Regions from separate parts of the Homo sapiens genome. Here regions 1, 3, 4 and 5 are each linked to region 2. Evidence: fine-mapped QTL for protein levels in blood plasma. Region 2 holds a variant in brackets. A gene starts in each other region. All regions are shown on their reverse strands.

What was found. PIP is the posterior inclusion probability: the model's chance that the variant is causal. Protein levels are from antibody-based Olink assays in UK Biobank. Linkage for the fine-mapping came from a reference panel and not from the study's own genotypes, which makes the PIPs less certain.
Region 1: MFGE8 starts here. The variant in region 2 is fine-mapped to the plasma level of the MFGE8 protein (UK Biobank, PIP above 0.99).
Region 3: TREM2 starts here. The variant in region 2 is fine-mapped to the plasma level of the TREM2 protein (UK Biobank, PIP above 0.99).
Region 4: DKK4 starts here. The variant in region 2 is fine-mapped to the plasma level of the DKK4 protein (UK Biobank, PIP 0.98).
Region 5: MEGF10 starts here. The variant in region 2 is fine-mapped to the plasma level of the MEGF10 protein (UK Biobank, PIP 0.99).

What each region holds. Positions count from the first base shown.
Region 1 is chr15:88,912,740-88,919,031 of GRCh38, reverse strand. It overlaps MFGE8 (milk fat globule EGF and factor V/VIII domain containing), which reads left to right and starts at 5,653. Exons shown (of 8, transcript NM_005928.4): 1 at 5,653-5,785. The coding sequence starts at 5,713. RefSeq lists cis regulatory regions at 689-809, 973-1,206 and an enhancer at 5,912-6,292.
Region 2 is chr11:60,170,202-60,176,535 of GRCh38, reverse strand. MS4A6A (membrane spanning 4-domains A6A) reads left to right here. Exons shown (of 6, transcript NM_022349.4): 5 at 925-1,134; 6 at 3,407-4,039. The coding sequence ends at 3,535. Among named protein-coding and RNA genes, the nearest start is that of LINC02705, 9.0 kb to the right of the region's middle. The variant A/T (reference allele first, on the strand shown) is at 3,410.
Region 3 is chr6:41,161,480-41,167,594 of GRCh38, reverse strand. TREM2 (triggering receptor expressed on myeloid cells 2) reads left to right here and starts at 4,479. Exons shown (of 5, transcript NM_018965.4): 1 at 4,479-4,552; 2 at 5,982-6,115. The coding sequence starts at 4,513.
Region 4 is chr8:42,373,896-42,380,229 of GRCh38, reverse strand. It overlaps DKK4 (dickkopf Wnt signaling pathway inhibitor 4), which reads left to right and starts at 3,001. Exons shown (of 4, transcript NM_014420.3): 1 at 3,001-3,295; 2 at 4,400-4,550; 3 at 5,317-5,469; 4 at 5,871-6,167. The coding sequence starts at 3,185. The coding sequence ends at 6,130.
Region 5 is chr5:127,288,001-127,294,334 of GRCh38, reverse strand. It overlaps MEGF10 (multiple EGF like domains 10), which reads right to left and starts at 3,539. Exons shown (of 25, transcript NM_001256545.2): 1 at 3,279-3,539. It overlaps LOC105379199, which reads left to right and starts at 3,599. Exons shown (of 4, transcript XR_007058921.1): 1 at 3,599-3,757.

The DNA.
Region 1 (6,292 bases), not on the chromosome of region 2:
TCCCAAGTGAGGCTAGTCTGCAGCTGAGGTTTCCAGTCATAAAGCTAACCACAGTCAGTGCTCAATGCATGTTTCTTGAATGACTCAATGATTAAATGTGTCTTAATTGGGTAACTGTGCAGTTGTTTCACGTGGGTGGCAGAAAGCCAGTGAGGGCGATTAGGAAGTTCCGTTCTGCAAGAGTAAGTGGCATTAACTGGTAAGGGTGCTATGCTCGCAGCATTCTCTACCTGCCATCTGAGATGGATTTCTGAAGTGTTGTATTTATTTTTTATTGAAATAAAATTCACATAACCAAAAATACACTCTTAAGATGTACAGTTCAGAGGCTGGGCACAGTGGCTTATGCCTGTAATCCCAGCACTTTGGGAGGCGGAGGCCAGCGGATCACGTGAGGTTGGGAGTTCGAGACCAGCCTGGTCAACATGAGGAAACCCCGTCTCTACTAAAAATACAAAAATTAGCTGGGTGTGGAGGCACACGTCTGTAACCCCAGCTACTTGGGAGGCTGAGGCACAAGAATTGCTTGAACCTGGGAGGCAGAGGTTGCAGTGAGCCAAGATTGAGCCACTGCACTCCAGCCTGGGTGACAGAGCGAGACTCCATCTCAAAAAAAAAAAAGTACAGTTCAGTGGTTTCTAGTATGCTCACAAGGTCATACAACCATTATCACTAAGTTCAAAACATCTTCATCATCCCCCAAAAGGAACTCTGTATCTACGAACAGTATTCCTCATTCTCCCCTCACCCCAGCCCCTGGCAACTGCTTATCTAACATTGGTCTCTATAGATTTGCCTTTTCTGGACATTTCATAGAAAAGGAGTAATACACAACATGGTCTTTGTGACTGGCTTCTTTCACTTAGCATAATTTTTTGTTTGTTTGTTTTTTGAGATGGTGTTTTACCTTCCCAAAGTGCTGGGATTACAGGCGTGAGCCATCGCACCTGGCTTTACCAGTGTTTTTATTTGTTTACTATGTATGTATCATTAATTTAACCCCAGAGGGTGACTGGTGAGCCTTCTTGGCTCAACCCTGAAGACCATGAGGGAGCCTGTGGTTTGGGGATGGGTCATATGTCCCTGAGCAGGGCAGCTTCCTTCTCTGGGAGAAGGCTTGGTCACAGGGAGGCGACTGAAAGTAACACTGCTGATGGATCTCTTTCTACATAAAAGGTGCTGGGCTAGGGTGACAAGAATACATATGACATTATTCCATATACCAGGACTTACAATCGAGTGACAGGTATTGCGACCATCATTCCAATATGAGGCAAAGTTTGATAAGAACTATAGGAGAGACTGCAAATTTAAGAGAGACAGGTTGGGAACAGTAAATTCTAATTAGAAGACTTGATTATTATAGCTTTGTAGTAAGTTTTGGAATTGAGAAATGTTAGTCTTTCAATGTTGTTCTTTTTTTTTCCTCAAGATTGTTTTGGCTATTCTGGGTCCCTTGCATTTCCGTGTGATTTTTTTTTTTTTTTTTTTGAGACAGAGTCTCGCTCTGTCACCCAGGCTGGAGTGCAGTGGTGTGATCTCGGTTCATTGAAAGCTCTGCCTCCCAGGTTCACACCATTCTCCTGCCTCAGCCTCCCGAGTAGCTGGGACTACAGGCGGCCACCACCACACCCGGCTAATTTTTTGTATTTTTAGTAGAGACGGGGTTTCACTGTGTTAGCCAGGATGGACTCGATCTCCTGACCTTGTGATCCTCCCGCATTGGCCTCCCAAAGTGCTGGGATTACAAGCATGAGCCACTGCGCCAGGCCTCCGTATGAATTTTAGTATCAACTTGTCAATTTCCGCAAAAAGGGCAGATGGAATTTTGACAGAGATTGTATTGAGTCTGTACATCAATTTGGGGGTGTACTGGCATCTTAACAATACAAGTCTTCCAACCTATCAACAGGGGATAATTTTCCATTTGTTTAGATCTTCTTTAATTTTTTTGATGATGTTTTGTAGTGTTCAACGTACTTGTATTTCTTTTTCTTTTTTTTTTTTGAGACGAAGTCTCTCTCTGTCACCCAGGCTGGAGTGCAGTGGCACGATCTCAGCTCACTGCAACCTCTGCCTCTCAGGTTCAAGCGATTCTCCTGCCTTAGCCTCCCGAGTAGCTGGGATTACAGGTGCCAGCCACCACACCTGGCTACTTTTTGTATTTTTAGTAGGGACAGGGTTTCGCCATGTTGGTCAGGCTGGTCTTGAACTCCTGACCTCAGGTGATCCACCCACCTTGGCCTCCCAAAGTGCTGGGATAACAGGCATGAACCACCGTGCCCCGCCATGTCTTGTATTTCTTTTGTTAAATTTATTCCTAAGTATTTTATTCTTTTTAATCCTATTGTAAATGGGATTTTTAAAAATTATGTTTTTGGATTGTTTATTTCTAGTGTAAGAAATACAACTGATTTTTGTATATTAATTGTGTATCCTGCAACCTTGCTTAGCTCATTTATTATCTTTAATAGTTGTGTGTTTGTGTGTGTGTGTGTGTGTGTATGTGGATTCTTTAGGGTTGTTTTTTTTTTTTTTTTTTTGAGATGGAGTTTCGCTTTTGTTGCCCAGGCTGGAGTGCAATGGCGCGATCTTGGCTCACCGCAACCTCCGCCTCCCAGGTTCAAGCAATTCTCCTGCCTCAGCCTCCCGAGTAGCTGAGATTACAGGCATGCACCACCACGCTCAGCTAATTTTGTATTTTTAGTAGAGACGGGGTTTCTCCATGTTGAGGCTGGTCTTGAACTCCTGATCTCAGGTGATCTGCTCACCTCAGCCTCCCAAAGTGCTGGGATTACAGGCATGAGCCACTGCGCCTGGCTCTTTAGGGTTTTTGATATACAAGATCATGCCATCTGTAAGTAGAGATAGAGATAGTTTTACTGCCTCCTTTCCAATGGGGATGTATTTTCTGTTTCTTGCGTAATTGTCCTGGCTGGAACCTCCAGCACAGTGATGAAATAGAAGTGATGAGAGCAGAACACCATGTCCTATTCCTGAGCTTAGGGGAAACATTCAGTTTTTCACCATTAAGTATGATAGTAGCTATGGGTTTTTCATATATATACATATATATATATATATGTATATATATATACACATATATATACATATATATATGTATATATATATACACATATATATACATATATATATACACATATATATACACATATATATACACATATATATATACATATATATATACACATATATATATATATACATATATATATATATATACACACTTTTTTTTTTTTTTTTGAGACAGAGTCTTACTGTGTCACCCGGGCTAGAGAGCAGGGGTGCAATCTCGGCTCACTGCAACTGCCGCCTCCCAGATTCAAGCGATTCTTGTGCCTCAGCCTCTTGAGTAGCTGGGATTGCAGGTGTGCACCACCATGCCTGGTTACTTTTTGTATTTTTAGTAGGGACCAGGTTACACCATGTTGGTCAGGCTGGTCTCGAACTGCTGACCTCAGCTGATCTGCCCGCCTAAGCCTCCCAGAGTGTTGGGATTGCAGGCGTGAGCCACTGTACCCATCGGTTTTTCATAGATTTTTAAAAATCAGGTTGAGGAAGCTCCCTTTCACTTCTAGTTTGTTGAGTGTTTTATCACGAAGACGTGTTGGATATTATCAAATGCTTTTTCTGTGATTATTGAGTTGATCCTATATGTCTTTTCCCCATATATATATATATGTTTTTTTTTTTTTTAAGACGGAGTCTTGCTCTGTTGTCCAGGCTGGAGTGCAGTAGCGCGATCTCGGCTCACTGCGAGCTCCGCCTCCCGGGCTCACGCCATTCTCCTGCCTCAGCCTCCTGAGCAGCTGGGACTACAGGCACCCACCATCACGCTCGGCTAATTTTTTTTTTGTATTTTTAGTAGAGACGAGGTTTCACTGTGTTAGCCAGGATGGTCTCGATCTCCTGACCTCGTGATCCGCCTGCCTCGGCCTCCTAAAATGTTGGGATTACAGGCATGAGCCACCACGCCCAGTACCCGCTTCTGAATATTTTAAGAAGGGCATCTTGCCAGTGGACTCTAGTCCCAACTTAGGTCTCAACACAGCTAGGAGGGGAGATGTGTGACTGTTCTATTTTGTTTGTTGGCTAGTCTGACTTAAATACTTATTAGTATTAGTATTGTTATTATTTTTTGAGACAGTCTCGCTCTGTTGCCCAGGCTGGAGTGCAGTGGTGCAATCGTGGCTCACTGCAGCCTCGACCTCTTGGGATCAAGCGATCTTCCCACCTCAGCCTCCTGAGTAGCTGGGACTACAGGCATGCGCCTGGAATATTTTTGTATTTCTTTTTTTGTAGAAACAGGGTTTTGCCATGTTGCCCAGGAAGGTCTCGAACTCTTGAGCTTAAGTGATATGCCTACCTCGGCCTCCCCAAGAGCTGGCATTACAGGCTTGAGTCACCACTCCCAGCCTGAAGCATTATTATTATTATTATTATTATTATTATTATTATTATTATTAGAGACAGAGTCTCACTGTGTCACCCAGGCTGGAGTGCAGTGGCATGATCTCGGCTCACTGGGACCTCTGCCGCCTGGGTTCAAGCGATTCTCCTGCCTCAGCCTCCCGAGTAGCTGGGATTACAGGCACCTGCCACTGCGCCCGGCTAATTTTTGTATTTTTAGTAGAGACGGGGTTTCACCATCTTGGCCAGGCTGGTCTTGAACTCCGACCTCAGGTGTTCCACGTGCCTCGGCCTCCCAAAGTGCTGGGATTACAGGTGTGAGCCACCGCACCCAGCCAAAACACTATTATTAAAATCACTTATTTGTAAACAGGTAATATTTGCACATGATAAGTACAAATCATTTAGTAAAAAGTCAACGGTGACAGGCTTGCTTTGTTTTATTCCCTTTCGGCAAACAGGTGCCCATTTCCTCGCATTTTGTCTATGGTGCCTTTCTTGCAACAAAGGCAGAGATGAATAGCTGCTACAGAGACTCAGGGCCTACATATCAGAGAACATTTTCTATTAGGCCCTTTACAGAAACCTTCGCTGATTTTTTTTTTTTAGTATTTTACCATTTCAGACAATGTTGCTATGCTATCTTTGTATATCTGTCATTTTGCACATGGGAGTTTCTGTAGAATGAATCTCTCTATGTGGAAATGCTAGGTCTTAAGGTGTCAGCATTTGTCGTTTTGATAGGTGTTACCAAATAGCCCTCTAGGGAAGTTGAACTAATTTATACTGTCTTCAGCGAAGCATGCTTGGACCTGTTCCCCACAGCCTCCACTAACCTTGTTAACATCTTGATACTTGCCGATCCGAGAAGGGAAACACGATGCTCATTGTAGTTTTAATTTGCATCTATCTGATTATGAATAAAGAGTTAGCATCTTTTCAAGTCTAAAAATCTTAAAAACAAAACTCCTGAACTTTTCCCGCCCAACAGACTCAAGACTCGTGACCCGGCCGTTGGCACGACGCGGGACGCCGGTGTGGCAGTGGCGGAAGAGGCAGATATCGCGGACCACCCCCGCGCCCCCCAATTCCTTTCAACCAATTCCCTCCCAGCCGCGGAGCCCCGCCCCCAGTCCGCCTCTGGCCAGCTTGGGCGGAGCGCACGGCCAGTGGGAGGTGCTGAGCCGCCTGATTTATTCCGGTCCCAGAGGAGAAGGCGCCAGAACCCCGCGGGGTCTGAGCAGCCCAGCGTGCCCATTCCAGCGCCCGCGTCCCCGCAGCATGCCGCGCCCCCGCCTGCTGGCCGCGCTGTGCGGCGCGCTGCTCTGCGCCCCCAGCCTCCTCGTCGCCCTGGGTGAGTGGATCGCGCCGCCCTCTGCCCCTCGCCCCTCCTCCCCGCGCCGCTCGGAAGTTTGCCCGGCGCCCGCCCTCCACCTCCACTGTTGACAAACTTAGACAAAGCCCCGGGGACCGGGCTGGGCAGAGGGGCGGCTTCTTCCGCTGCGCCCTGGCGGGACAGGGGGATGCGGCCCTGCTGTCTCTGCGCTGGGGCTTTTGGGCTGGGACTCGGGACATCGGGTGACAGCCCTGCCGCCCCCAGGGATGCGGCTTACAGATAATGACAAAGGAATCCGCTGTGTCGGGCCTCTCTTTTCCCTGGTGAAAAATGAGGCCAGGGAACTGCGTTTGACTTTCGAACCCCTTCCACCTGGGAGATTCTAGGACTCTAGTATGGATAAGTCTTGTCTGGATAACTTTGTCCTGGCCATCTCCCTGCCAACTCCAGTTGGCTGGACAGTTCATTGGATTTTTGCGCTCCCAATTGTCCGTGCCTGGTCACATAAGGGAAGGGCCGGGGAGT
Region 2 (6,334 bases):
ATAGCTCTCAGAGTACTCTTAGCTCAATTCTCTTTTCTGTGTGAGTTGGAGTACAAAAGAAGTCACTTCTGAGGTTAGTTTATCTATTCCCTTCACTTCATAAATGTATAAATGAGAACCAGAGTGGGAAATAAAATCAAGGAACTGATTACCCAAGGGAATAAACCAAGGCAAGTCTAGTACTGTGACTTCAATATTCTGACCTCCAGTTCAGACCTTTTTCTTGTACTTCCCGCTGCCTCCCACACATTACACCATCCTTGGGCCTGCACCTAGACCTCTGCCCACAGCCACCCCATACTGCACTCAGTGTGGCCAATCATATGCCTGCCCATGTTCCAGGGCCTGCCTGAGACTCAGAACCACCCCCTCACTCATCTTTGAGAGGTGTGCTTTTGAGAGAAGCAATGGGCAGGCGAGAGTGAGCTATTAGGTTGGTGCAAACATAATTGTGGTTTTATGGCAAAAACCACAATTACTTTTGCACCATGCTAATACATGATCTATCTTTTCCATGTGGCTGATGCTTCCGCCAGGGGTTTTTGAGTTGAGCGAGAGAGAAACTGCATCTGGTACGTTGCCACCTTCACTTTGGGTCACGCTCTCTTGGTAATGTTGCAGGTAAAGCCTCATGAAAGCCCTGCTATCTGTCCTGGGGAAAGAATTTAGGAGAGTAACATTCTCTACCACACCACTGAGGTCCTGCTTAAGGTGAACCAGTTCGTATAGTCATTCATTCAGCCAAGAATTACCCTGGAGATTGAGAGATTTTTGCTGGACACTGGAGAGGCATACAGCAATAAATGATCAATCCCAGACCTCCTGAGGGGACAGATAAGGGAATAACTTACAATTTAATGGCAAAGATGCATAACAGATTCATGAGTCATTAGCAATGATCCTTACCCAACATTTCTCTTTCAGGTGCATAGCAGCCTGGTTGGAAGCATTCTGAGTGCTCTGTCTGCCCTGGTGGGTTTCATTATCCTGTCTGTCAAACAGGCCACCTTAAATCCTGCCTCACTGCAGTGTGAGTTGGACAAAAATAATATACCAACAAGAAGTTATGTTTCTTACTTTTATCATGATTCACTTTATACCACGGACTGCTATACAGCCAAAGCCAGTCTGGCTGTAAGTATTTTTAGATGGGATGTTCTAATCTTATGAGGTATTCAAAAGCCTTGATTTCTTGTTATTCCTTCTTTTGAAAATCTCTCTATTGGTTCTGGTTTGGGCATCTGGGGGAAAGCCAGGTTTATGTAAATCAAAGGGGACTACAGGGATGAGATTAAGGGGATTACATACTAATAGAGTGGAATTGAAAATGTTAAATAAGGTTGATGATGAAAAACTAAAACTTACTGTTTGTAGAGGTTCTTAATTATCAAACTAATCCAATTTTGGAGGCATAAATTATGAGTTTATCAAAATGAGAATCTTGGTACATGGAGTGGTGAATTAAGAATGGAAACAGAGCAGAAAGACCCAGGAGATCAGAATAGGCCAACAAGGAAACAGTATGTGTGCATGGTAAGGAGTTAATTTGGTTTGAGAAGACATCAGATTCAGTACTAAGAAAAAGAGGATAGGAAATATGGGATGAGAAGATAAGGGCTTCTTCTTCTAATGATCACAATAATGAATAATACTGATCAGGTGAGAATGCAACATTATTGTTGCTTTTTGTTATAGCTGAAAGAAGTGTGATATATTAAATCAGGAGATAAGAAATATAGGGAGATGGAGAGTGTAATTGAGAATGATTGCAGGAGAATTCTATCTCTTTGGAAGAAGAAAAATAATGAAGTTTGGCTAATAGAAATAATATGTCTGAAGTTGAAAGATTAAGGGGCATGTGCATGGTCAGCAACACATTGAGAGAAAAACAGGCAACATAAGAGTAAAGGGACGGCTGGGTCAGTGGCTCACCCCTATAATACAAGCATTTTGGGAGGCCCTGGTGCATGGATCACGAGGTCAGGTGTTCAAGATGAGCCTGGCCATGACGGTGAAACCCCATCTCTACTAAAAGTACAAAAACTAGCTGGGTGTGGTGGCGGGCAGCCGTAATCCCAGCTACTTGGGAGGCTGAGGCGGAGAATTACCTGAGCCTGGGAGGTGGCGGAGGTTGCAGTGAGCTGAGATCACGCCACTGCACTCCAGCCTGGGTGACAGAGCAAGACTCCGTCTCAAAAAAAAAAAAAAAGGAATAAAGAAATTGCAGAATATTTGTTGTCCTGCAATCATAAAAACAAGATAAGCCAAGAACTCAGCTGGAAGATGGACAGATAGAAAGGTCTGGTCAAAGTCATGTTTGTATAGCACTCATTATAAAGAGGGCCTTGCTCCCAAGGTAATGGTATAATGAGAAAAAGTACAAGTAAATGAGGCTGACAGCAATTGGCACAGATTAATACCTGGCACAGCCAATTCCACCTTGGGAAAAATTCTGAAGAGAAATTTCAGAGAAATTTGGTAGTGATAAAGTATAAATTCATGATGGGACGATTTTACATTGGAAATAAGAGAGATTCTGTCAAGTTTGCTTGCTGGAACAATTTCCAGTAATGGAAAAAGTTATATCTTCTCTTTAACTGTGTATAAATACCACAAACCAAAGTTTCATGTGATCAAATTATTTCCGTTTATTATCAGATGGCCAGTTCTGCACAAAGAATGTCTCAGGACAGAAATGATAGAATTCATTCTTGTGAGTTGGTGTTGGTGATTAGCAACTCTGACAGTTTACTACCTTCACTGTTTTTTTCTAAGCCTTACAGTTACACCCCCAAAAAAAAGAAAAAAAAGAAAAAACAACAAAGAAACAACAACAAAAATCAAGAAGAAATACAAAGGGGTTCAGATACATAGACAGGGATGTCAATACTAAATTTTACAAAGGACTTGCACAGTCAAAACCTCCTTGATCCTTACAAATTTCTGAGAAAGAAATGTTAGTATGCATGTTTGATACATGAGGAAACAGGAGCTAGAGAAAGAGAGAGACTTGTCCAGGCTTACACAGCTACTAAGCAGTAAAGGTGAGACTGGAACGGAGCTGCTGATTCTCAGTCCTGGGAGTTATTACGCCACTCTGCTTTCTTACCGAGTGAACAATGTCATCAGAACTATGGATGTCTCAAAGAAGTAAGAAATAAGTGTATGAAGTAGATTAGTTGATTTAATTACTATTCATCTCCCTTTCTCCTCTCAAGGAAATGAGTTAAGGGGTTGAATTAAGACAATTGTGAGGTGTGGGAGGAGCAGTTTTATCTTCCTGATGGTGTCCTTTCTTCATTCTCTAATGGTTGAGGTGGTCTTCATCTCTATGGTCACCTCTCAACTAGGCATGAAGGCTTCAGCTGACCTAAGCAACATCAATCTTTTATTTCTTGACTTTCAGGGA[A/T]CTCTCTCTCTGATGCTGATTTGCACTCTGCTGGAATTCTGCCTAGCTGTGCTCACTGCTGTGCTGCGGTGGAAACAGGCTTACTCTGACTTCCCTGGGGTGAGTGTGCTGGCCGGCTTCACTTAACCTTGCCTAGTGTATCTTATCCCTGCACTGTGTTGAGTATGTCACCAAGAGTGGTAGAAGGAACAATCAGTCAGTCATGAGATACACATGGGAGGGCATTTGCATTGTGATGGAAGACAGAGAAGAAAAGCAGATGGCAATTGAGTAGCTGATAAGCTGAAAATTCACTGGATATGAAAATAGTTAATCATGAGAAATCAACTGATTCAATCTTCCTATTTTGTCAGCGAAGGGAATGAGACTCTGGGAAGTTAAATGACTGGCCTGGCATTATGCTATGAGTTTGTGCCTTTGCTGAGGACACTAGAACCTGGCTTGCCTCCCTTATAAGCAGAAACAATTTCTGCCACAACCACTAGTCTCTTTAATAGTATTGACTTGGTAAAGGGCATTTACACACGTAACTGGATCCAGTGAATGTCTTATGCTCTGCATTTGCCCCTGGTGATCTTAAAATTCGTTTGCCTTTTTAAAGCTATATTAAAAATGTATTGTTGAATCAAACCCCTATGGACTTATGGCTTTATTTAACTGAATTAAAAAGCCTTGATTTATCCAAAATTGTATTATAGAGTGTAGAATGAATACTAGGGTGATAAATTGCAATTATTTGAAGAACCTGGTGATATGCTCTACTTATCTTGGATTAGCTAAGAATTCTATGTATACAGTTGGAAAAATGGCATATATACATCTATCTTGAACCTGATTGAAGTCTGAAGACCTAACATATTTTGTTTCTTCTAGAGTGTACTTTTCCTGCCTCACAGTTACATTGGTAATTCTGGCATGTCCTCAAAAATGACTCATGACTGTGGATATGAAGAACTATTGACTTCTTAAGAAAAAAGGGAGAAATATTAATCAGAAAGTTGATTCTTATGATAATATGGAAAAGTTAACCATTATAGAAAAGCAAAGCTTGAGTTTCCTAAATGTAAGCTTTTAAAGTAATGAACATTAAAAAAAACCATTATTTCACTGTCATTTAAGATATGTGTTCATTGGGGATCTCTTGATTTGCCTGACATTGACTTCAGCAAAAGCACGGGGCTGTAAATTACCATTTACTAGATTAGCCAAATAGTCTGAATTTCCAGAAAACAAGGCAGAATGATCATTCCCAGAAACATTTCCCAGAAAATGTTTCCCAGAAAACTAGACAGAATGATCATTCAATGGATCACAGTGAAGCAAAGGACACAACTTTTTATTGTACCCCTTAATTGTCAACAGGAGTTAACTGATTTGTTGTGGTGCTCAGACTTTTTTATACAGGTGCTAGTGTTTTATCCTATGTATTTTAACTCATTAGTGCATAAAGGCAAGCCCCATATAATGAAGTCTCAGGGTATATGAAAGTAGCTGGCTTCAAAATAAAATTTTTGAGTGCATATTTTGTTTTAACACTCGTTTTGTTGTTTTTTCCCTTAAACACAGAATAAGTCAACAATGACAGACATAAACCCAAATTGGAACTCCATTTTCTCCCCATCAAATATTCAAACAAAACTAATGAGCAAACAAAAGCTAACCAGGAATACTCATTTTTTATGAAGCATCGACCAGTTCATACTTATTTTCTTATTGCAAGAAAGACCAATTGTTTGTGTATAAATATTAAGTTTCAGCATGTGTGTACACACACACACGTAGAAAAGTATTTCAATTTTACATGAGCTCCATTTCATTGAAAGAACTGGTCATGTTTCCCTTGCTTTTACCCACTGTAGCAGGGGTCATACCCACTGTATCAGATATCCTGATACTCAGCTTTTCTGCTGTTTTCTTTTCCAGGCTGAAACTGGACTGTCAGATTCTTTGATTTTAGCTTTATCTTCAAACTCTCGTTCATTATGTCTTCTCCCTGTCCATTGCACCCCCCACTGACACACACCATTTCTTTTATTTATTTACCTACTGTGGACATTCAACTTTTATTGACGCTTATTGGATACCAGACACTATGTCAAATAAGAGAAACAGAGATGACAGTGAAATTAGGGATATATACAGGGCACTAACTATTATTTGAACACAGAATAAAGCATACCTTCTTCTGCCTAAAAGAATGTAGGGGATAAACAGGTGTGTGTGTGTGTGTGTTTGTGTGTGTGTATGTGTATGTGTGAGAGAGAGTCCTTCTTTTGAAAATCCACATCCCCCATATCAATCACATGGTGCCACCTTCTGCCACAGGAGAGGACTATGACTCAGAGTCCACAATTGGTGTATTCATCTACTGTACTCACACTCCAGCTTTGTTCCTCACCCCCTGCCACCATGTCTTCACCACCACCACAGCACTCTGGATACCAGAAGTCTTACTGATTACCCAGTCAAACTTCTGGTCTTCAAAGTTCCCCCCGGGTCTCTCTTCAGCTTTGACTTGTTTATCAGAGAAGGCATCCAGCCCTTTAGGCAACACTCAAAGCCACTTTTTATCCTAGGCTCAACCTCACTGCCATGTCATCCACTGATATCTTTTCTTTCAAGTAGCAATGCCCCTTCAGCCCAAGTCAAGTGAGAATGATGCCTACCTTGAGATAGAAGATGTATTGAGATAACCTTTGTAAAGCAGTTACCAATATAGCTGACACATGAAAGATGCTCAGTGAACTCGAGTTTTATTGTGTGTTTACTTCCCTTTGCTTTCACTTCCATAGTCCAACTTTCCTTCCCCTTCCACTTCCACCCTCTATGTCTAAAATTAACTTCAACCCCAATACATCGCTGGGATTTGGAACCTGATTATACTCATGAAATCTTTCATTTCTTCAAGAAAGTCTGGGCCAGGCA
Region 3 (6,115 bases), not on the chromosome of region 2:
GTCTTAAGTGGCTGCTTATTAGTGAATGGCATTTGTGGGCTCTTATGTTTGTAGTTTGGTGGCCCCAGCCAAGGGTGGAATGGACACCACCAATCACCCCTTTAAGCCCAGTTCTCAGGCAAGGCTTTGCAGGGGCTGTCCCAGGTTGGGCTGACAATAAGCCTAATCAAATTGGAGTTATTCCAGCTTTGAGAGGCCTGTTCCTATGTCGGCTGTTCCAGTCACATGCCTCCCCAGCCTAGCACAGGGGCTGGCACTGGCCATGGTCCTGACCAACACCTAGTGCTTTCCTGGCTGCTCAAGCTGGCTGGGTGCAGATGGGAAGATAATGGAGGATCTGATCTGAAAGGTGGTGAGGATGCTCATACTTGACCGTCTTGATTTACTCCTAGGGAGAAAGGAGAAGAGAGAGTGAAAGTGTGTGTTTGAGGAGAGTGATGATTTGGAACAGCTACTCTAGCCTCCAGGAGTTCTGAAGAGGATGACCAGGCAGCTGTGAGGTCTCAGTTAAAGTTAGACATCAGGAGCATGTCATGTGTGCAGTCATGCTTCTGGTTCTGAGGCTTTCCCCAGCAATGGTCACCATCATATCTAGGAACACAAAGGCTCCATGGTTCTGTAACACCATGCCTGGCACATGAATGAATGCATACATCGGTGAGTGAGGAAGTTCAGACGTAATGACAGAAGGACATAAACTCTGTGCCCAGATGTGAGGTGGAAGGTATCTTTGAATTCAGATTTAGCAAAGGGAAAAGAAGAATCCTGTGCTTGGGAGTGCGGGTGGTGCAGAACTGTTCCTGTGCTCAAATATAGGATCGAGGGATCAGGAAAATTAACACAAGTTTAAAGAAGAGCCTTTGATGTACATGTGCTGTGAGTAATTGGTAAGGATTTCTTGGTGCCTTCGCTTTTCCATGAGGTTTAAAGACCTTTTCCTCATGTGGGAAGGAGTGGGGACATGGGGTCAATATGCAGCTTAAATGGACCAGAAGATAAGATAAAAACTTATGGAGCTTATGAGTTATGCTTCTGCCTAGGAAACAGAAAGCTAGAATCATGTAAAATAGCACCCCAAATCATAAAATATTTAGGTAGAAATTTAACAATATATGTGCACGATTTGTATGCTGAAAACTGAAAACACTGATGAGAGAAATCATAGAAGAAACAAATAAATGGACAGCTGAACTGTGTCCATGGCTTGGAACACTCAACAGTGTTGTCTATTTCCCTCTAAAACTAAACCATAGAGTCAATGCAATCCCAACTGAAAGCCCAACAGATTTTTGGGGGTGAGAAGAAGAGGATTAGAAATCCACAAGCTGATTTTAAATTTTACATGGCAAAGCAAAGTAACTAGAAGAGTCAAAACCATTTTGAAGAACCACTGTTTGATTTTAAGACAGTGTAAAGCTACAGTAAGTTATCAAGACAGTGTGATATTGGAGAAAGAATAGACATATAGATCAACGGAACAGAACAGTCAGAACTAGACCTACATGTCAATTGATTTTCAACAAATACACTAAGGTAATTCAATGAAGAAAAGAAAGTCTTCTCAACAAATTATGCTAGTACAATTGGACATTCATATGTTGAAAAAATTGCAAAGTGCATCTTATACCACATGCAAAAATTAATGAAAAATGAATCATAGACCACAATGTAGAACCTAAAACTATAAAACTTCCAATGGAAAACATAGGAGAAAATATTTGTGACTCTGAGATGGGCAAACTTTTTAACAGAGCACAGAAAAGCACAAATTGTAAAAAGAAAAATCAAGGAATTGGACTTCATCAGAAATAACATCTATCCATTTAGGCTGGGTGCAGTGACTCATGCCTGTAATCCCAGCACTTTGGGAGTCTGAGCCAGGCAGATCACCTGAGGTCACGAGTTCGAGACCAGCCTGGCCAACGTGGTGAAACCCCGTCTCTACTAAAAATACAAAAAAATTAGCCAGGCGTGGTGGCAGGTGCCTGTAATCCCAGCTACTCAGGAGGCTGAGGCAGGAGAATCGCTTGAACCTGGGAGGCGGAGGTTGCAGTGAGCTGAGATCTCACCATTGCACTCCAGCCTGTGTGACAAGAGCAAAACTCTGTCTCAAAAAAAAAAAAAAAAAAAAAAAAAAAAGATGCTGCTAATGCTGCTAAGGAAATGAGAAAAAAAGTTACAGACTAGAAGAAAATATTTGCAAATCACATATCTGATAAAGGACTGCTATCCAGAATAAAAAGAATTTTCACAGCTCAATAATAATGATAATAATAAACAATTAAAAATGGACAGGACAAAAGTTTTGAACTAATACTTTGCTGAAGAAGGTACAGATGGCAATAAACAACAAAAAGATGTCCAATATCGTTACTCACTAGAAAAATACAAGTTAAAATTGAAGGAGATATCACCTTAAACCTATTAGAAAGGCTTTTTAAAACCTGACAATATTAACTGTTGACAAGGATGTAAAAATGGTACAGCCTCTTTGGAAAAGACTTTGGCAGCTTTTATAGACTTAAACATACACTTACATGTGACCCAGCAGTCCCATTCTTAGGATTTTATCCAAGGGTAATAGAAACATATGTCCACACAAAACATATGTACATGAATGTTTATAGTGGCTTCATTTATAATTGTCCCAAACTGGAAACAACCCAAATATCCATCAGCGGGTGAATGAATACGCTACTTGTGGTTCAACCATAGAATGAAAGATGGTTTAGCAATAAAAAGGAATACATTCTTGAGAAGTGAAACTTCACGCATGCTGAATTTATTCTGATGAGTGAATAAAGACTGACCCAAGAGGCTACATACTATTTAATTCCATGTCTATGACATTTTAGGAAGGGCAGGAAGCTACAGAAACAGATGTCAGCTTAGTAGTTGCCAGGCCCTGGATTGGAGAGAAAGAGACTGGCTAAAATGGGCACAAAGGCTCTCGCTTAAGCTAAATGAAACTTTCTATATTATGGTATTGTGTTACACAGACATGGTGATTGTGGTGGTTGTTATAGAGATGCATGAGTTTGTCAACATTTACACAACTAGACATTTAAAAGGGGTAAATTTTTGTATATGTAAATTATGGGCCAATAAACCTGACTTCTAGAAAAAGACCCTAGAAGAGTACCTACAGAGTGATCTTCAGGCAGCCTCAGACTTCAGCCCCCAGGCCCTTGGGGCAAGGCCGGGCAGTTGGCCCTTTGAGTGGAGGCCTGTCTTCTCCTCACTATGAATTCCCCATCTCCAAGCACATTCCCTGTCCGTAAGTTAGATGCACAGTAAATATGAGTAAATAAATGAATAAAAGAACAAATAAGTGAGTGTTTGCAGGAAACTAAAGTAGACCCTGATAATCTACAGGCTCCTGCAGGCTTCTCCAGCCTCTTCTGCCACTCCCAGCACAACTCCATTTCCCACTCCTAGAATTGACTCAAGCCTCCTCCATCCAATCCCCGACTCACTGGGCCATTTCACACTTTTGTGCCTTTGCACACGTGGGTCCCTGTGCTTGGATCACCATGGGAACCTGTACGTGTAGAAAAACACACCCCTACCCCCAGAACTCTGAGAAATATCCTGTCCTGTCCTGTAGGATAGGATGATCAGGAGTTCAAGCATGTGTGTGCACAAAATAAACACCAGTGTGAGCATGTGTGCACAGGAGACACCCAACAGTTCCAAGAAGGCTAAACTTGGGCAGAAAATTCCAGGTGGGAGAGAAAATTTTCTGTCTTATGGACAGCCCATTTCCCTTTTCCCTTCTAACTAGGATAATGGTAATAGTTAGTATTTGTTGAATGCTGTGTGTCAGGCCCTACTGGAAAGCACTTTACCTGTAGGAACCCATATGGTGCTCCTGATAACCCTTTGCACTATCATTATTCCCACTGTATAGATCAGGGAACAGACACAGGTAGGTTTTGGATGTGTGGTTACACACCCAGAAAGTCAGGAAGTCTGGCTCCAGAGCTGTGTACTTAACTGCTGCCACACTACAGGAATGACAGCCCTGGGGGGATGAACTAAGAGGTGCTGGATGAGGGTCCTGGCCTCTAAAGGCACAGCTGTTCTCCAACTCTTGCAAGGCTGAAACCAGAAGATGGCGGGCATTGCAGCTGGTGGAGGGTCTGAATACAGCTGTGAGGATAGTGATCCCTGGGCTAGGCTCTGCAAGGAAACTGAGCAGTGCAGGGCCTTACCAGCCCCAACCATCTGGGGGCCACCCTGGCTGGCACCAGCAGGAGGGTGGGCTGGCTTCTCAGAGGTCTGGGAGACTCAGCCTCCTTCTGCCAGGGCTGCAGTGGCCGACTCCTCCTCCCCTCTGTCCCCACCCTGCACCGCCTCCAGACCCCAGTCCTGACTATTGCTTAATCCCCAGGAGCCCAGTTCCTGTGGGCAGCGCCTGACATGCCTGATCCTCTCTTTTCTGCAGTTCAAGGGAAAGACGAGATCTTGCACAAGGCACTCTGCTTCTGCCCTTGGCTGGGGAAGGGTGGCATGGAGCCTCTCCGGCTGCTCATCTTACTCTTTGTCACAGGTAGGATCCCCTCCGTGCCCTGTGATGCCTTCTCTCCCTCACTTTGAGCATGTGGTTGGGGCGCGGGTGGTGGGCCCTGGGGTGAATTATGAAGGCGGTGGCAGTCCTCGCATGCCTGAGTGCCCTGTTCTGCACTCCTCTCCTCCCCACCCTGCCCATATTCTTCACACCCTCCTTCCCTCCCCAGTATCAAAACCTACCCTCAGACTCTTTCTGCATGTGGACATGTAAGGGGCTGGTGGACTCTGGTTGCATTGGAAGGGAAGGAGTGCTAACAGTGGCATCCCAGGCACTAGCTGGCAGTTGGGGGAAGCTTTGGGGGGCACTGGCACTGGTAATAGCCTCTGAAATTATAAGCCACTAATTATGAGCCCCTACAGTTATAAAGGAGGAAAGAACCTGAGGATGTTCATCTGCATCTTTGGGGCACTCTCTCCCCTGCTCTGAAGGTCCCCTTGTCCTCAGCTCTTGATGGGAGGTGAGGAGCGTAGAGATTTCCGTTGCTGAGTTGAGGGGAATTGACACACCAAATTTTTGTACACAATTGCTTCTTCCCGCTGAGGAAAGCGCACCTTTTGCTCCCCCAGAGCACTGGACAAACCTGGGCAAGAGGAGAGACGGTGCCAAATGGAGTCTTGTTCCTGCAGCTTCTTAGATGGTGGTCAGGGGGAAGGCGGGGTTCTGAGGCATGGATGGGAGGTGGTCAGATGGGAGAGGGCCACGGCCCATCTGGTCTCTCTAGTTCCAAAAGGCAAGCCACCAACTTCCCAATCCTATCTTTCAAGCCTCTGTCACAGTAATGGTTGAAGATGGCAGGCAAGGGAGGACCAAGAGAGAAGTCAAAGCAGGGGGCTCTGGGGGCTGCCCCAGCAACAGGCTGGTGCTCTAAGCCCATCTCCCCCGCCCTAAGGAGGGTTCCCAAAATAGCAGCCTCATGTCTCCCCCAAAATATCTCCGAGACGGGTCCTTCCTGAAAGGGGAACAAAGCCACAGAAATAGGGAAGCTGGAAGTTAAAGGTCAGGAAAGTCGGTACCAATGTGGGCGGCTGCAGAGCAAGCAAGAGTGGCGGGGCAGGGAGAGCCAGCCCCAGGCCGAGAGGAGAGGTCCCAGTCCCAAATGATGGCAAAGAGATGTGCAGAACAGAACTGGAGGGGGTTTTAAGACCAAGTGCCTCCAGAATAGACCCAGAGAAGGTCAGTTACTTCTCCAAGGAGGCCCAGCAAGAGCAACAGTGAGAAAACCAAACCCAGGTCCCAGGTTTCCTGGTTCCCAATTTCCCACAAACACATGCTGTGCCATCCGCTCCCAACTTGTATAAGAACCTAAGCTCCTTCAGGGCAGGATTTTTGTCTGTTTAGGTCACTGCACAGAGCAAGTGTTCAAAGCGTATTTGGTAAACAAAGGAGTGAATGAATGTCTCCTCCCCAGAGCTGTCCGGAGCCCACAACACCACAGTGTTCCAGGGCGTGGCGGGCCAGTCCCTGCAGGTGTCTTGCCCCTATGACTCCATGAAGCACTGGGGGAGGCGCAAGGCCTGGTGCCGCCAGCTGGGAGAGAAGGGC
Region 4 (6,334 bases), not on the chromosome of region 2:
TCCTGAATAGCTAGGACTGCAGACACGTGCCACCACACCAGGGTAATTTTTGTATTTTTCGTAGAGATGGGTTCTTGTTATGTTGCCCAGGCTGCTCTTGAACTCCTGGCTTCAAGTGATCCTCCCATCTCACCTTCCCAAGTAACAGAGACTACAGGCAAGTGCTGGCATGCCCAGGTTTTTTATTTTTTGTGGAGACAGGGTCTTGCTATGTTGTTCAGGCTGCTCCCTGGCCTCAAGTGGTCCTCTTGCTTTATCCTCCTCACGAAGTGCTGGGTACAAGCATGAGCCACTGCACCCAGCGGATCATGGCATTCTCAGTCTGATATATCTCCAATGACTTTACATTGTGCAGAGAATAGAATCTGATTTTCTTAGCATGGCATATCAGGGTCTGCATCTTGCTTCATCTCATCCTTCCATCATCTGCCGCAGCCACACAATCTCTCACTAGCACCTGAGTGCACCTCCTCCCTCTTGCACACACCTCACCCTCTGAGCCCAGGTGAGGATATCTCCGACTTCCCAACTTAGGAAGCCCCTATGCAACCAACAAAATTCAGCTCAAATATTACCTCATCTGTAAACACATTCCTTTATTTCTCTAGAAAGTCTAAATCATGCCTTCGTCTGTATTTATATCTTCATAAGTCCTCCACCCTTATATTTATACCTTTATTTTAGTGCTTGTCATAATACATTGAAATCATCCATATGTACATGTCTTCTATCTGGATCTCTCTCTCTCTCTGTGTCACCCAGGCTCTGTCATCCATACATACAAGTTTTCTGTCTGAATCTTTCTCTCTCTCTCTCTCTCTCTCTCTCTCTCTCTCTCTCTCTCTCTCTCTATATATATATATATATATATATATATAGGCTTAATCTCCTGGGCTTAAATGATTCTCCCACCTCAGCTTCCTGAGTTGCTGAAACTACAGGTGAACACCACTATGACTGGCTAATTTTTTTTTTTTTTGAGATGGAGTCTCACTCTGTTGCCGAGGCTGGAGTGCAGTGGCACCGTGTTGGCTCACTGCAACCTCGGTCTCCTAGGTTCAAACAATTCTCCTGCCTCAGCCTCCCGAGTAGCTGGGATTACAGGTGACCACCACCACGCCCGACTAGTTTTTATATTTTTAGTAGAGACAGGGTTTCACCATATTGGCCAGGCTGGTCTCGAACTCCTGACCTCAGGTGATCCATCCACCTCAGCCTCCCAAAGTGGTGAGATTACAGGCGTCAGCCACCGCACGCGGCCTACTTTTTTTTTTTTTTTTTTTTTTGTGGAGACAGGATCTCAATATGTTGCCCAGGCTCGTCTTGAACTCCTGAGCTCAGGAGATCTTCCCACCTTGGCCTCCCAAAGTGCTGGGATTACAGGTGTGAGCCACTGTGCCCGGCCATTGGAGTTTCAAATTTTATTCCTAACATGTAATCCGAGGCTCTGTTCCATGCCAAGTGCTCTAAGTGCTCAGTGGCTGTTTGTGCCGTGTTACAGGAGTTCCCGTCAGTTCTTTCGCCTGTGTATATTGCCAGGGGCCTTTGGTAACCTGAAATTCCCTTACAGTGAGGCAGCAGGAAGCAGAGAAACCCGGCAGAGACAGAACCCTGGGGGCTCTTTCCTTTATCCTTGGTCATAATTGTACAACTTGAAAATAAATTCTGTAACACCCCTAGTCACCAGGGTTATCATGCTATCAAAGGGTGTTGTTTGATGTCAGTTTAAGGGATTAAAACAAGTAACTTCCATACGAGAGGTAGACAAGCAATACCAACCCAAGGACAAGGGCCAAGTAGTAGGAAGGCTCGAATCACCTGCATCACCCTCGGAATGGCACTGCATTACTCAAAATTGAGAATGTTCCCATGCACAGAATGCTGAGATTCATGTCAATGAATTGATGTTAGGTTGTTCTGCAGGAAAATGTAGTAAATAATAAGATTATCATTTATGGCATAGAAAAAATGCATTTTAGATGACTCTATGCTAAGAGCAATGAAACAATGAAGAGAAAAAATGATTTTTTGATCCAGATCTAGATTGTTCTACCCTTAAAGTATTTAAGACAGTGATAAGCACATGTCTAAATTACCTGACTAATAGTCCAAATGGAAAAAAATCAGACAGGAAAGGGATGAAGCAGAAGTTTTAAAAAATTCGTATTAGGAAAATTGGAAATACATGAAATTTCATCTGAAATCAGCCAGAGACTTGGATCCTTGTTCTGCTTAAGTGAGTTTTACATAATGCAACACAAATTAAATATGTTGCTGATAAAATGGACCCAAAGCTTCGTACTGAATTGTGTAAAATGCGCTATCATTGTTCCCACCATTGAAAAATGGGATTTTCATAAATTACATTATTTTCCTAATAACCCTAACTTCAAACAGTTCAATTTTCATTTAAAGGAAAGTAATTTCCCAAATGGCATTTAGTCAGAACAGGTGCTGTTACGTTCACAACTTTTAAGCGGTTGGGATTTTGACATCTGGATGCCAGAGCTAATCAGGGGGCGTTTTCTCTTTTTCTATCTGTCCTCACTATCTGAAGCCCAGTTTACAGCTTCTCAGTGTATTTTGTACCTCATTAGTTTTTGGCATCCTCTATAGCATATTGGCCAGTATGATTCATCCTTTCTTTGAGCACAATTAGCTGTGAAAACAGATCTTAGGGCAGACTCCCTCCCTACCCCCAAAGGATTACTGAAGGTAGGAAATGCAGGTGATTATCAGAGTTTGCCTTTGATACAGACATCCTGCTCTGCCGTGGCCCTTTGAACTAACTTTGATATGCAATAATTAAGAGGGATTGAACCCCTGGAGGAGAAGCCGCATGGCCCTGCCTCTTCTCTCCTTCTATTGAGTCCTTGTTTTGAACTATTGATCAAACAGATTTGAAGGGATTTGTTGAAGCCTGTGTGGGGCAGGAGGAAGGAACGGAGCGGGGAGGAGGCACATCTGGTTATAAATAGTTTCAGGAGGAACCTGCTGGTCAGACTTTGCTCAGCCGATTTCACGCACCTTACTCAGACTAAGGTTTACTTCTTTCAGAAAAAGCAGTGACAAACAGACGACGTGCTGAGCTGCCAGCTTAGTGGAAGCTCTGCTCTGGGTGGAGAGCAGCCTCGCTTTGGTGACGCACAGTGCTGGGACCCTCCAGGAGCCCCGGGATTGAAGGATGGTGGCGGCCGTCCTGCTGGGGCTGAGCTGGCTCTGCTCTCCCCTGGGAGCTCTGGTCCTGGACTTCAACAACATCAGGAGCTCTGCTGACCTGCATGGGGCCCGGAAGGTAAGGCTGCTAGGGAGGGGGGCGAGGTACGGGACTGCTGACAGCTGGGGTGTTTTGTTTAGGCTTTAGTAAGTCATTCTGATTCATGTATGAAATGTCTTACCTAGCAGGTAAATTGAATTGGTTTCGGATTTGGGAGGGCATCCTGGTAGGATCAGTGGCCTTAGTGTGAATGTATGAAATAAACACAGTGGCTTTTCACATCATTCGGCCATACGTTTGTCTATAAATCACGAAATAAACGAACACTTTGGAAGCTCTACTATGTGCCAGCTCTTTTACATGTAATACGTCATGTACTCTTCCTCACAATTTGAGATAGGTGAAACATTCCCTAATTCCAGATGAGGAAATAAGACTCAGAGATGTTGAAGAGCTTACCCAAGCTCACACAGCCAGCAAGCAAACATGGGAATGAGAATTTAAACAGAGGGCCATGATGCATTGCCTTGTCACCATCTAACTTCACAGAGAGAGTTGTTTTAGGAATCGCTTTATGTATGTGTATATGTTATTATATATCGTATAGATTATTACATATATCATATATGCTACACCTACGTTGTATGTCTATGTAGAAGCATCAACTGTGTATGAGAACAATTGATCTTCGGTATCTCTTTCTCTATGTCAATGAGGCATCATTGAAAATCAAAGGACAGTTCACTTAGGGAAGGGTCTCTAAGCTAAATGTGATTCACTAGAGTAAAAAATCAAATAGGAATGCCACAAACATCAATAGTATGTTTAATGAAACTGTAGCCAGCTTCTAGAGTTAAGATATATTGAAAATCTCATACTCACCTGTTAAGACACACATAGGAAAACATTTTTTCCCATTTTCACAAAGAGCACAGGAAAACTAAATTCTGAGTTAAGTCAATTTTTCAAACTCAAATAGCCTTTGCAGCGCCTAGGTCTCCCCGGGTGACATGAGCTTCCCTTTGTGGGAGAAAACCATTTCCACTGGAGAGTAAGATGCTGCCCAGGGTTTGTCACAGCGCCACTGTCCTTTGGCTCCCTCCGCCTCCTGCCTTCAATAATAAGTCATCTTCCATCGTGTTGGGGGTTTCCTAGCCTTGTGATAACAGATTCCCTCCACAGGGCTCACAGTGCCTGTCTGACACGGACTGCAATACCAGAAAGTTCTGCCTCCAGCCCCGCGATGAGAAGCCGTTCTGTGCTACATGTCGTGGGTTGCGGAGGAGGTGCCAGCGAGATGCCATGTGCTGCCCTGGGACACTCTGTGTGAACGGTGAGCGACATAACGCCAACAGTGGTTTTTAAACCGAAGGTAGTGTCTAAGCCCCATAGACTAGAATATTCCAGGGTAGGCACTCTCTAATGGTGCTTCCTAGATTCATGCTTGAAGTAAATGTATGCAGCTGCCTTTTCTTTTCCTTTTTTTTTTTTTTCTGAGGCGGAGTTTCGCCCTTGTTGTCCACAGCTCACTGCAGCCTCGGCCTCCGGGTTCAGGTGGTTCTCCTGCCTCAGCCTCTGGAGTAACTAGGACTACAGGCATGTACCACCATGCCCGGCTAATTTTTGTTATTTTTAGTAGAGATAGGGTTTCACCATGTTGGTCAGGCTAGTCTCGAACTTCTGACCTCAGGTGATCCACCTACCTCGGCCTCCCAAAGTGCTGGGATTACAAGCGTAAGCCACCGGACCCGGCTTGCCTTTTCTTAATGAAACAAAATAATTTATTTCCTGGCAACAGCTCTTGCCAATGACTTGGAGATAATGATTTTAAAGGAAAGACTCAAGTTGTAATCATTCAAATACTTCCATTTCCACTTGGATACCATTAACTACCTTTAATGGAATGCAATTTCCACTTAGCTACTTTCTCTGCCACATGCGAGCATGTAAATATTTAGCACATGTTCCAGAAATCTAGAAAGTTATATATAAACTGAAGGCAGAGGTGCTGCCAAACTATGCAACAGTAGGATAATTAGTGTGTCTGTGGTTCTCCCCCTTGAAGTTAATAATTCTAGTTACACCTGGTTGTCCCTCAGATGTTTGTACTACGATGGAAGATGCAACCCCAATATTAGAAAGGCAGCTTGATGAGCAAGATGGCACACATGCAGAAGGAACAACTGGGCACCCAGTCCAGGAAAACCAACCCAAAAGGAAGCCAAGTATTAAGAAATCACAAGGCAGGAAGGGTAAGAACAGCATTCGCAGCATATTTTATTTCAGAAATGCATTTTCTCCTCCCAGCCTCTTAAGGATAGGGTGAGACTGATTTTATTCTTCTCCATCCCAGAAACACTTAGGAAGCATGTGCTGTTTGTTATCTCTTTCTGTAAGAAGCTGTGGGGGTCACGTAGAGAGTAGCCTAAGGTAGTCTGCAGCCAGTAACAACGATCAATTCTGATGGGTAGGGGTGGAGTCGCCATGGCATTACTGCTTTTAGCGTAACACCTAGCTCTGTGAGACCTGCGTGCTGTGTCTGTTTTTACTTTGTGGCTGTCAGTCATAGGTCCCATTCCCTTATCCCAGTAGCAAACCCCCAGCAGGCCACTTTCCTTATTTATCACTAAAGCCCACATTAACCTTGTTACAGGACAAGAGGGAGAAAGTTGTCTGAGAACTTTTGACTGTGGCCCTGGACTTTGCTGTGCTCGTCATTTTTGGACGAAAATTTGTAAGCCAGTCCTTTTGGAGGGACAGGTCTGCTCCAGAAGAGGGCATAAAGACACTGCTCAAGCTCCAGAAATCTTCCAGCGTTGCGACTGTGGCCCTGGACTACTGTGTCGAAGCCAATTGACCAGCAATCGGCAGCATGCTCGATTAAGAGTATGCCAAAAAATAGAAAAGCTATAAATATTTCAAAATAAAGAAGAATCCACATTGCATTTGAGCTCAATCTTGGACATTAACTTTAAAATGCTTCCATACAGATCTCTCTTAAAATCAAATCTTGTAGCAAGTGAAATAGCCTGAAACTAGAGAACTAAGAGATGGCGACCTTGTGATGAATGAAACTAGCTTTAGCCTTTTGTCCGTTTTTCCAGAAAACTGATGGGA
Region 5 (6,334 bases), not on the chromosome of region 2:
CTATGGGCCAGCCACTTGTATAAGAGCTTACAATAAGGAATGATGAACTCACCAATCTGTTAGGGATAAACATTCAGATAATAAATATGGCTGATACAATGTGATTATGCTATATTAAATCTATCCACAAGAATGGGAACTCGCATGAGATATCGCTAAGTTTATGAGATAATTGGGAAAAACTTCAGAGGGAAAGTCTTCAAAGGGATTTGAATAGTGTCTTAAAAGATGAATGGGTGGTAAGTGGTTGGTTAGACAGGAAAGAGGGTCAAAGACATTTTCAGAGGAAGGAACAGCATATACAGCTGGGTCATGGAAGAGTGAAAGTGCACAGCGTATTCTTGAGATAGTAACAAGATCAAGATCAGTGGGAGCTGGAGAGCTGGGGACCAGAGAAGCAGAAAATAACCCTGAGAAGTGCTGCAAAGGTGGTCTTGTGTATAGCGGTAAGGAGGTGAGACTTTATGCTGTAAGCCAGTGTTTCTCCAAATGTGATCTGACGTCAGCTTTACCAGGTTCACCTGGAGATCTCAAAATGCAGATTACTGGCCCTTACTTCTGGGGTGAAGCCCTGGAATCTATATTTTCAACATGCACCCAGGTAACACTGACATTCACCATCCAGAGAGCTGCCAAAGATTTTTAAACAAGGGAATAACATGATCAGATTTGCATTTTAGAAATACACTATTAAACCAAGCAGACAATCACAAAGAAGGTAAATTCACTGCTGCTAAATGAGCATGTGACTTGAGTTTTGCATTAGAATCACCTGGGGAACTTGTAAAAATGCAGACTTCTCACAACTCACAGAAGACTTACTACTTCTAAATCAAGGCAGAAGGGATTAGGGTTTGTATAGTTTGAACCATACAAAATTGCCATTTATTTAGGTCAAAAATGGTCAAATATCAGCAATTTCTCATAGTTCACTCTAATATTTTAACAAATCTCCCCACTTCATGCTTCTGGTATAAACCAAAGTCTGAGAATAGTGAAAGACAGACAGAGATAAACGCTTTTCCCTTTTCATTAATTATCGATGTTGTTACTCACTTTGATGAATATGCAAAGATGGAAGTAACGTAATTTATGTACCTAAAACAAATGTTAAAAGAGAAAAGTGGGGGTTCAAAAACAGCCACCAATGAAGTAAGGCAGCTAATTTAAGGATTTTGGAGCCAGAAGGAACACTGGAGGTTATTCTACTCTTTCCCCACCTCTCAACACAAGTTTATACATAATAAAACTGATGCCTAAATGGAGAAAAGCAATCTGCTTGAGGTCATAGGGAATATTTTGTTCAATTTCTCAATGATACGTGCTTTTTATGTGCTCTTATGAGCATTTTAACAGGTATGGAAATTGTGTAGCTAAAAATACTTGGGATTTAATTTATAGAGTGCTAGGTCACACACTTGAAATGGGAGGAGGCACATAAAGCCAATACTCATGCATAGCCATTTTTAAAATATAAAACCTAAAACAGTGCTTGACATGTAATAGATGGTTAATAAATACTTACTGAACAAATGAGTGACCTCTAAAAAATAGGTTAAAGAAAGTATATTAATGTAAAGGATTTCCAAGGAGGTATACAGGCTGTGAACTGAGTGTAGATTTCCCACCTCCTCACCTGTTCCAAGTAGTCTTTGGTGCCCATCCATGACCCACCACCCTATAAATTCCAGCTCTGCCATATACACCTTTATTTTTCCAACTGAAAGTGCCACAACAAAAAAGCAATACAAAGATCATGTCTGAGCTAAGTTTGACAATAGGTGGTAGTGAAGCTTACAGATGAGCACAGTCTTCAAAGTCCATCCAAATAGGAATAATAGCTAACACTTACTGACAGCTAATAGAAGCTATACTAGAGGGATACAACAATAGTTAATGCTAGCTATACAATAATAATAAAGCTAATTTGTGCCTACTATGTGTCAGGCTTGTTAGTCCTTCACATGCATTAACTTACTTAATCCCTTTAACAATTGTCTGATGTAAGTGCTATTATTATCATTTTGATTTTACATATGTGGATAAACAGATTAAGTAACTTACCCCAAAATCACAGAACTGAAAAGTGGCAGAGTTGTGAGCTGAACCCAGGCTGGCGGGTGCCCAGAGTTTACCAACTGAACTCTTTGAACTCTCAGTGGTAAAATTAAAAGTTCCCTGCAAGCTGACCTCTTGGAGCACTCGTGTCAGGAAGATGACATTTCTGGATAATATAAATTGGCCCCAGTATTTCTGTCCATAAGGAATGAAGCATTTTTATTTGGGAACCCTATACACAAAGTGAGACCCAGGATATAAAGGAGTAAGGCAAGAAGAACAAGAAGAAATGTCATTCTCTTCTGCCTTGGCACAGCATGGTTATCACAGCCTAAGAACAATAATAATGGCTAATTTTGGCTAATAAGATCTCCAACTTTGACTTTCTCCTAAATAATGTGGGTCCTTGCGTGAGGATATTTTCTAAAGAAGCAGCAAAGATATTGCCATCATTCATTTGCTCAGTGGTGTCACTAAGAAAAATACTTCCAGAAAGAAAATTAAGGCCAAAACACTTCCTTAAACCAGGCGTAAAAGTCCTCTAACAAGGAATTTAAAAGAAAAAGATCAACACCGGATTTATCTTTCTTAAGTAACTATCACTTGAAAAACCGTCCCTCCCAGCACTCCTTAAGGAGCCAAGCATACTGACAAGGCCCCTTTGGTCTAAGACTGCGACCTCACACCCCTACTGATCGCTGAGAACTCAGGAAAGGGGAGCATCCCGCCAGCCTAGAGCGTTATCTGCACAATCTGAATACCAAGGACGGGAGAAAGAGAAGTTTAGAAAACAGTGAAGATCCCAGAAAGGAAGTTCAACTGACCTAGAAGAAAGGGCCCAGCTGAAACTGCCTTTCAAGCTCAGTCCGATTCCCCACAAATCTCCCTACATCCAGCTATATCGCCCGGCAAAATGAAACAAACACAAGGTAAGGCAATACAAGGGCAGGAATTATGCAAAATAAAATGCGTAATGAGGATGTCTCTCCATCAAAAATACTCCAGGATTTTCCTACACAATCCCATGTAACAAAACCAAATGCAAACAACAATAAACCCTTAAGAAGCGCATGAACAACGCAGACTGAGCCCATCTCGCCCCACCTCACGCCGCACCCCGGTACCCTGGCTAAGGAAAATGTGACCCCCGCCCATGAGAAGCCTTCCGGCGTCCGGCCAAGGTCCAGGAGCCGCCGGAGTTGAGTTTGCCCAACTCTTACCCAGGTCCAGAGATCTTGAGAATCGCAGCGCAACCTTTTCTCCCCGGTCTTCACCCAAAGCCAGCCAAGACACAAAATCTGTTCCAATCAACGCGGTTAGCGTCCAAGCAGCGTCCCAGAAGAAAGCAATCTTTGGGAGTCTTCTTTCAGGCGTAAAGGTGGAGAAGCGGGAAAGAGGAACGTCTCAACGCGTTCCCAGTCGCCCAGTTTTGCGCACCGGGAAAGTACTTGCTGCAAACTTGAACAAGGTTTTCTCTGTCTGGCCCGAGATGCTGGAGGGGGTGGGGGCGGGTAACCCGAGCCGGGGCCGGGATTCGAGCAGTTGCCGCTGCTGCAGCTGCTGCTGCCGGGGCAGTGGCCGCTGGGGGGTTGTCGCTTGGCGCCGCGCGCAGTCCCTAGCGCAACATGCAGGATCTTCCCGGCCTGACTGCTGCACCTCGATCGTGAGTCGCCCCTGCCTGAGCGGCTTCCACCGCCTGGTGGGTGACCCCGCCAAAGGCCTGGTCGCGAAGTTAGCAAATGTTGGGGTCACCGCAGGGGGTGACCGAAGGGGTGTCAGAGTGGGTGCCCGCCTGATTCCCAACCCACGTTGGGTGCAAGTCCCTCGGCAGAGTCCCTGGGAGGTGTTCTAGACCCTCTGTAAGGATTTGTGGGACGGTGGCCGGCGCCCGAGCGGCCAACTGGAGTGGACGGCGGGTCCTCAGTGGTGTCAGGGGAGAAAGCGCAAAGGTGGGACCCAGAAAGGATGGTGATTAAGCCGTGCCAGAGAATGTGATGTGGCAGCAAAGTACATGGAAAGGTGGGGCGGGGAGGTGAAGGCAGAGGGTGGAGGGTGGGATAGTCTGCTTTACCATGGAGGGGCGGAGAGAGAACTCCCCGGACGCGCAGGAAAATCCCCCCAGGTCCTCGGAGGCCTCGCGCGGCAATTTATTGGGGAATGGCTCCCTCTGCCGACTCGCCGAGGAGGCCCCGGGAGGCCCAGTGATGGAATGTTAAAACCATGAACGGGCTTTTCCATTTGTGGGTTAGACAGGACATGAATTCTGGAATCTGCTTCTCTGACTGTCCATCTTCCTCTTCCAGACTAAAGAGTTTTCCAGCTTTTACAGGACCCCAAAAGATACAAATTTGACTGCTGCAAAGTTCTTTCTTGTGTCGTTGAATTCTATCCCCCTCTCCCCACAAAAAAACAAAAACAGGTTTAAGCCCCATAACCACTCCAGGTAACCATCTCCTACCAGGCTTCTCTTCCTCCCATTAATAAGAACTCTTTCTTTTTAGAGAGACTTCAAGAGCGTTCGAGTCCCTACTCAATAACGCTCCTGGAAAATAGTACAGACTCCATATTATGTTTGAGTGAATAAATGAATGGAATGAATGAACATAGATATGTTTGAAGCCCCTCACCATCCTCTTTACTCTCCCTGGAAATACACAGGGGAAGACTGTTTTGGTGTTTGTTTATTTGTTTGTTTAGCAGTCATCATTGCCCCTTCTCTGGTAACAGTACCTCCATTTTTCTTTGAGATACCATCCCTGCCACAAGGACAGCAGTCTGGGTGGAAGGTCAGTCAGGATGGTCCAGCTTTTCCCTGTCCAGAAGAGAGCAACTGACCTCAGCTAAGCCCCTCAGGCCCTCTCTGCCAGGAGTTGGAACTTTGATCTGGGCAGCACAGGCACAAATAATTCTAGAGGTGATTAATCCATATGGCTGTTTTCTAAGGAAATTGGCTGTTAGTTCATGCCACTTATTACCCAAAGATATTTTGCTTTATGAAACTTGGTTGCCCCACTTTCCTTTTAATTTTTTAATCAACTTTATTGGGGGATAAGTTACATTCCATATATTACACTCATATTAATTATACAGCTTCATGAGTTTTGAATAATGTACACACCCATGTAACCACTGCTTCAATCAAGATAATGAACAATTCCATCACCTCAGAGGGTTGTCTTGCACCCCTTTAAAGTCAACTTCTATCCCACCTCATATTTGGCCCGCTTAGCTGTTTTCTGTAACTACAGATTAGATTTGTCTTTTCTAACATTTCATATGAATGGAATCACTTACATATTCCTTTGTGTCTGACTTCCTTCACTCCACACAATGTTTTTGAAACTCATTAATGTTGTGCCTGTATCTGAAGTTTGTTCCTTTTTATTGCTGAGTAGTATTCCATTGTATGGATATACCACAATTTGTTTGCCAGTTTACCAAATGATGGACATTGGGGATGTTTTCAATATGGGGTTATTATGAATAAAGCTGCTAGGAACAATCTTTAACAAGTCCTTTTGTGGACATACATTATTATTTTTCTTATCTTACAGGAGTAAAATTATTATTACAGTAACTGTGTGTTTAACTATATAGAAAGATGAACTGCTTTCCAAAGTGGAAAACATTTTACATTCTCACCAGCAAGATATGATAATTGCTTCACATCCTCATCAACACTGGGTAGTTTCTGTCTTCTTATTTTTGCCATTCTAGTAAGTATATAGTGGTATCACATCGTGGTTTTAATTTGCGTTTCCTTACTGACTAATGATGGTGACCATAAAAGATGTTTACCAGCTTTTCATGTGCTCTCATGCCACCTGTTCTTTGATAAAGTGTCTGAATTTATTGCCCAATTTTTAATCAAGTCTTTGGATTCTTATTATTGAGTTGTAGGAGTTCTTTATATACCAGGCATTTGTTAGATATGTATATAACCAATATACACTCCCAGTCTGTTTCTTGTCTTTCAATTTCTTAATAGTGTCTTTCAAACAGCAGTTTTTAATTTTGATAAAGTCCAGTTTATCAAGCGTGTTTTTGTGTGTGTGTGTTGTACTTTTAGGTTTTACATAAGTAATCTTTGCTTACCCCAAGGTCATGAAGATTTTCTATGGCTTCTTATAGAAGTTTATAGTTTTAGCTGTTATATTTAGGTCTACAATCTATTTGATGTTAACCTTTGTGTATGGTATGAAGTAAGGGCTGAGGTTCATTATTGTCTACATGGATATCCAGTTGTTTTGGCACCATTTGTTGAGAAGATTATCTT